Homo sapiens: one gene and its partner. The protein of the gene in region 1 interacts with the protein of each later gene in a biochemical or structural test. Each region holds a gene or a part of one and is shown on either strand. Other genes may lie near its edges.

Evidence for each region. The genes of interacting proteins can lie anywhere in the genome.
Region 2: the proteins of FIZ1 (region 1) and NRL form a complex in vitro, tested with the Homo sapiens proteins (one study listed by BioGRID).

Annotation. Positions count from the first base shown.
Region 1 is NC_000019.10:55,593,582-55,596,561, reverse strand, and holds part of FIZ1 (flt3-interacting zinc finger protein 1), read left to right. Parts: exon of another isoform or gene 1-666; coding exon of another isoform or gene 667-942; intron 943-2,915; coding exon 2,916-2,980. UniProt on the Homo sapiens protein: May be a transcriptional repressor of NRL function in photoreceptors. Does not repress CRX-mediated transactivation.
Region 2 is NC_000014.9:24,078,079-24,081,131, forward strand, and holds the end of NRL (neural retina-specific leucine zipper protein), read right to left. Parts: 3' UTR 584-3,053; downstream 1-583. UniProt on the Homo sapiens protein: Acts as a transcriptional activator which regulates the expression of several rod-specific genes, including RHO and PDE6B. Also functions as a transcriptional coactivator, stimulating transcription mediated by the transcription factor CRX and NR2E3.

The sequences.
Region 1 (2,980 bases):
CCTCCCTGGGAAGAGCATTCCAGGCAGCAGGAACAGCAAGTGCAAAGGCCCTGAGGAAGGAAGGAGTGTGCTGTGTTCCAGGAAGCGATGGGAGACTGTGGGGTTGGGGTGGAAGGAGGTAAGGTGAAAGATGGGACGGGCTAGGTCACACTCTGTCTATGTGCCAGACACTTGCACAACCAGGGTGAAGAAAACCAGGCATCTACCGATGGTCTTTCACACTTGGCTGTCCTCTCTGTCCCCATGCATCTGCCTTGGTTCAGGACTTCACATCCTGAATGTTGGCCCCGGCTTTCTCAGTGGTCTCCCTCCTTCCTGTCTCTCTCCCTCACATCCAGTCTCTGCATCTATCACAGAGTGACCAGGTGACCCCTGCTTAAATCCCTTGATCCTTAGGATGAAAGGGGAGCTCCTTAGCTTGATGCAACAATTGACAGTCCCCTGAGGGGCCTCACCCCCACCCACCAGTAGGTTGTGATTCAACTGAACCATTTCAGGAGCACCTACTGTATTTAGATACAGTGCTAGGCTCTCTGGGGGAAAAAAAATAGCTAAGGGAACAAAACAGATACAGTCCACCCTTTGTATGGCCTCGAGTCAAATGTGGGAGATGTGAACTGAACAACTAGGTTAATCAATGTTAGGCTGCAGCCGAGACATCTGAGGATGGAGGATAACCATATTCTGAGGCTAATGCAAGAGAGAGCTGAAGCAGTCTGGATCGGGGATGGGGTCAGGGATGGTTTTCCCGAGAAAAAGGTGAGGAATGATCTGCCTCTGGGGTCCGAGGCTTTCCGGATCCAGGGAACAAAATGTGTACTTTCAAGGAAGCAAAGCAGGCTTTGGAGGAACTGGAGGAAGGCCAATGTGACTGGAGCATGGAGAAGCAGAAAGTGTGGCTCAGGAGAAGTCTGGAGAGTGCCGGACCCTGGAAATACAGCTGTGAGCAAAACCAATGTGGTCACTATTTTTATCGTCCTTAGCTGGTGGGGAGACAGACAACACTCAAGTTATATGTAGACACTAAGTGTGCTATGAGCCATAGGCTTTAAAGAAGGAGGGTGGAAGAGGATCACTGATGAGCCAGGGGGCCAGATTCCGGGAAGGGTTTCCAAGGAGCTGACAGATAAATAGACCTACGGGCATTCCAGGCAGTGAGAACAGCATGTACAAGGGCCCTGGGACCAGCATAATCTTGTTGTGTTAAAAGAGTAGAGAGAGAATAAATTTAGTGACAAAGAGGATAGAGATCCCTACACCCACACTGTACAGCAGGTGCATCGAGTCTGGAGCCAGAAAGGCAAATGAACATCACTCCCTGTTCCTTCTTCAGATCTGTGCCCCTGGCAGACATTACTAATCAAGCACTGCACTCTTTCTCATCCAGCCTCACCCTTCTCCTCACAGGCCTCCAGGAAGACATTACCATACTCACAAATCTCTCTCTGTTATTCCAAAATCTTAAATCAACAAGGACAAATATCAATACAAAAAACCTCTCTAAGGCACGGTTTTACACAGTCTACAAGCCTGGCAATGCCTCAGAAAAAAATACAGATTCCTGGACTCCCTCCTGGGAGATTCGATTCCCTAGACTTGGAAGTGATTCCCTGGATCTGTATGTGTGAAAAGCGTTCAGTGGGAGAAACTCTGAGCAGTAGCCGGATTCGGTTCAAAATCACTTCTCTGCCCTAACACACCTAAGGCCTGTATTCAGCTCATGATAACTGGCTCGGGATAGCAGGGCTTGACAAGGGAGAAGACACACCCTGCTAGGGCTGGCTGCTGTGTCACTTTAGAGCTGCACTGTCCAGTATAGCCATTAGCCACCGATAGTGATTTCTTTTTTTTTTTTTTTTTTTTTTGAGACAGAGTCTCGCTCTGTCGCCCAGACTGGAGTGCAGTGGCGCGATCTCGGCTCACTGCAAGCTCCGCCTCCCGGGTTCATGCCATTCTCCCGCCTCAGCCTCCTGAGTAGCTGGGACTACAGGCGCCCGCCACCACGCCCGGCTAATTTTTTGAATTTTTAGTAGAGACGGGGTTTCACCGTGTTAGCCAGGATGGTCTCGATCTCCTGACCTCATGATCCGCCCGCCTCGGCCTCCCAAAGTGCTAGGATTACAGGCGTGAGCCACCGCACCCGGGCTTTTTTTTTTTTTTTTTGAGACAGAGTCTCGCTCTGTCACCCAGGCTAGAGTGCAGTGGCACGTCTTTGGCTCACTGCATCCTCCACCTCCCGGGTTCAAGTGATTCTTCTACCTCAGCCTCCTGAGTGGCTGGGACTACAGGTCCCTGGGACTACCCGCCACCAGGCCCGGGTAATTTTTGTATTTTTAGTAAAGGCAGGGTTTCACCATGTTGATCAGGTTGGTCTCGAACTCTTGACCTCAAATGATCCACCCACTTCAGCCTCCCAAAGTGCTGGGATTACACACGTGAGCCACCGCACCCAGTCGTGTTTTTTTGTTTTTTTTGAGACACAGTCTCACCCTGTCATGCAGGCTGTAATGTGGTGGCATGGTCACGGCTTACTGCAGCCTCAAACTTCTTGGCTCAGCCTCCCAGGTAGCTGGGACCACAGGAGTGTGCCGTGTCCAGCTAGTTTTTAAAATTATTTGTAGAGACAAGGTTTCCCTGTGTTGCCTGGGCTGGTCTCAAACACCTAGGCTTATGCAATCCCAGAGTGCTGGGATTACAGGCGTGAGCCACCATGGCCAGCCAGGACATGGCCTTTTTAAGGACCGAAAGAATCTACCGTGACCCCAAACAGAGAGTGATAGGACGAGCGTTTCCCTAGATCATGGCCCTGTAGGTGTGACAGAGAGCTTGTGCCACAACCCTCTGGGAGTCCAGGAATCCGTTGTCCGGGCTAGGTTCTCAGCCCTGACGTTGTGCCCTTCCTCCCGCACCCCTAGGTCGTCCACACTGGTGAGAAACCCTACTGCTGCCTGGTCTGCGAGCTCCGCTTCTCCTCACGCTC
Region 2 (3,053 bases), on another chromosome or scaffold:
CTCCTAGCACCTCAGCCTCTAACCATCATGCCTCAGATGCCCACTGGGCAGCCTGCAGCACCCCCACACACACCATAAGAAATGAGGACCAGCACCTTTCAAAATCTGAGACAGAGCTCCCCAGGCAGGCTGCTGTCTCTGCAGTCTTACCCCAGCTATGTGCCAGTGGGATCTGAGGAGCCCCCTCCCTCACCTCCCAACCCCAGGGGGTCTAGGCACCATGGAGAATAATTACAGGAGATAGGAGGATAATTACGGGCTGTCAGGAGGGCAGGCTGAAGCTTTCTTATAGCTGTCTCCAGAGAGGCCCTGCTGAGTCCCCCAGGAGCTGAACCCCAGCCCCCACACAGCTGTGGGGCGGGCCAAGAGCAGGTGCTGGGGGATACTGAAGGAGGGCAGCAGGTCTGCTAGTGAATTGGGAACATAGTGGAGCATCTAAGGCCTATACAGTCTGGTTTCCCGGGTGTGTCAATGTGTGTGTCTGTTCATGGCCTTAATGGGTCACACTCATGGACTCAGGGATGTGCAGTGCATGAACACACAGATTCACACACTTAACAATCACATCAGCAACAACAGCAAATATCATTACGTAGCATGTGTCAACTTTATGCTAAGTGCTTATTTAAATGCATTTATTCTCAGTAGGTGGTTACCATTATTTTCACCATTTTTCTGACAATCAAGTGAGGCTTGATTTTAACCCACCCATGGTCAAAAAACTGGTAGAACTGCAACTTGAAACAGGGTCTCACTCTGCCACCCAGGCTGGAATGCAGTGGCACGATTATGGCTCACTGCATCCCCGAACTCCTGGGCTCAAGTTATCCTTCCACCTTAGCCTCCTGGGTAGGTGGGACTCCAGGTGCATGCCATTACATCTGAATTTATTTTATTTTATTTTTTTGTAGTGACAGGGTTCTCGCTATGTTGCCCAGGCTGGTCTCAAACTTCCTCCTTGGCCTCCCAAAGTGTTGGGATTACAGGCAGGAACCACTGCGCCCCACCTAAAGCACTACTCTTAATCACCACAGTGTGCAACTTTGTTTTTTTAAGTATACTCAGGTAACCCAGGAGTATCATTTTGAGACCCAGGTATGGTACTGTATATGTGGCCTAGTTGTGTGCTCAGGTGTCTATGGATGGTTCTGTCTGTCTTTGTGTGCCATGCAGGTGAGAAAAGTGAACAAGAAAAGTAGTGGGTCTGAATTACAGCTCCAGGGCAGGCAAGGATAGACACAGGTGAAATTTAGAGTGAGAGAAAAAGAGCTGGGCTCCCGGAAGGACCCTCCCTGCCCCATCCTCTCCCTTCAACAATGAGTGTGGAAGGGGATGAAGAAAGAGAAGCTAAAGGTTCTGTGAGCCCCTCAGAGAGAGAATCCAGAGCCAGAGAGGATGGCCAGTGGCCAATGGTGGGGAAGGGAGAGGAGACGAGAGAAATTCTGAGAGCGATGGAGGAGAGGACTCCCATTGCAGGCTCCTAAGCGGAGGAGGGATGAGCTGGGATAGAGGAGGGGAAAGAGGGAGCAAGAACTGTGATGGGAAGAGAAGAGACAGCTGGGGAGGGGGTGGAGAGAGGGGGTAGAAAGGAAGAGGGACATATGGGAGCCTCTTCCCCCATGCCCGAAAGCTTCTCCCATTTATTATGTCCGGTAGAGGACAGATGACAGTAACTCGTGAGGCGGCTGCTCCCAGCACAACGCCTGTGCTCTGCCCAGAGGCCCCATCTGCCCTCCCCTTAGCCTGCTGAACTGGAGGACTGGGTTACCATGGAAACTGTGAGACCTGGATAGCCACTGACAGGCCGAGCTGGGCCACTGAGGCTTCTGAGTTTGGTGGTGGTGGTGGTGAGAGGGGGAGGATCCATCTGTTCCAATGCCTGCCCCTCCACCCCATTTCCATTGGCTCTCCATAACAGATGTGCCACCCAGCTCCAGGTGGGGACTTCCCTTTTTCTTGCTCTCTCTCTCTCTCCCTCTCTCTCCCTCTCCCACACACAGACACACAAACAGTAGCCTGAAGCAGGGATAAAGAATGAACACTTCTTAAATTGCAAGAACATTTAGCTTATTGCATTAGAATTCTGCCTGGACTTCAAGTTTAATTCACAAAAGCTGCACTCTCTCAGCAAATTGTCATCCCAGGAGAAGTCTCACCTCAGCCCTCAGAGAGGTGGGAGGTGGCAGGAGCACCCTGTGCAGGTCTGGAGGCCCAGACAGCCTGGAGGGAGCTGCCGAGGACCCACGTATGTGCTCACAGAGAAGCCAGGCTTCCTCGCCTGGGCTGTGCATCCCCTGCCTAGGCTGCAGCTGGGAAACTGCAGCAGGATAGGAGGTGCCTTTGGCGAGATTGTCTTGGGGACTTCTTGGGGAGACCACCGGGACTTCCATACTGGGGAGATGCCAGAACTGGAAAGGGAGCAGAAGTCGTCCAATCCACATGAGAATTAGATGAAGTAACACAAGTCCAGGAAGCAACTGATTTGCTCAGGGTGACAGGGGGATCCCATGGAAGAGCTGGGACTAGGACCCAGGTTTCCAGACTTCTGCACACAGCTCTCTCCCAACCCACACCAACAACCCCCAGAGCTCACTCTTCAGGCCTTTGCTGCTCTGAGCCCTGAAGGCCACAGGGTTGGGCAGGGAAAAAGCATCTCGGATAGAGGTCCTAATCTATCTAGTTGTTGGATATTGAAATCTTGAAAATTCTGTAGTGCTAAAATGGGGAGGTTACAAGCTTCAGAATGAAAATACAGCCTCATTGCTAATTACAGCTTTAATGTGTTACAGGTTGAAAACCCTGAATTAAAAACTAAACTGAGGTGGGAGCTGCAACCCTCCTCCACCTCCCATTCACTGTGTCACCACACTTCCACCCCCCAGTGCCTGGCACTGGTCCCTGCAGAGCTCAGCGTGCTAGTCATGTGGGCTGGGTTTCTGTGTTCGTAAGGGGAGGGGACCCCTCTCCAGAAAATGACCAGCATCTAAATTCGGGCATGACTTGAGGACCCAAAAGCTTTGGGGATATTTGCGCGGTCATACAGGGCGTGGCTA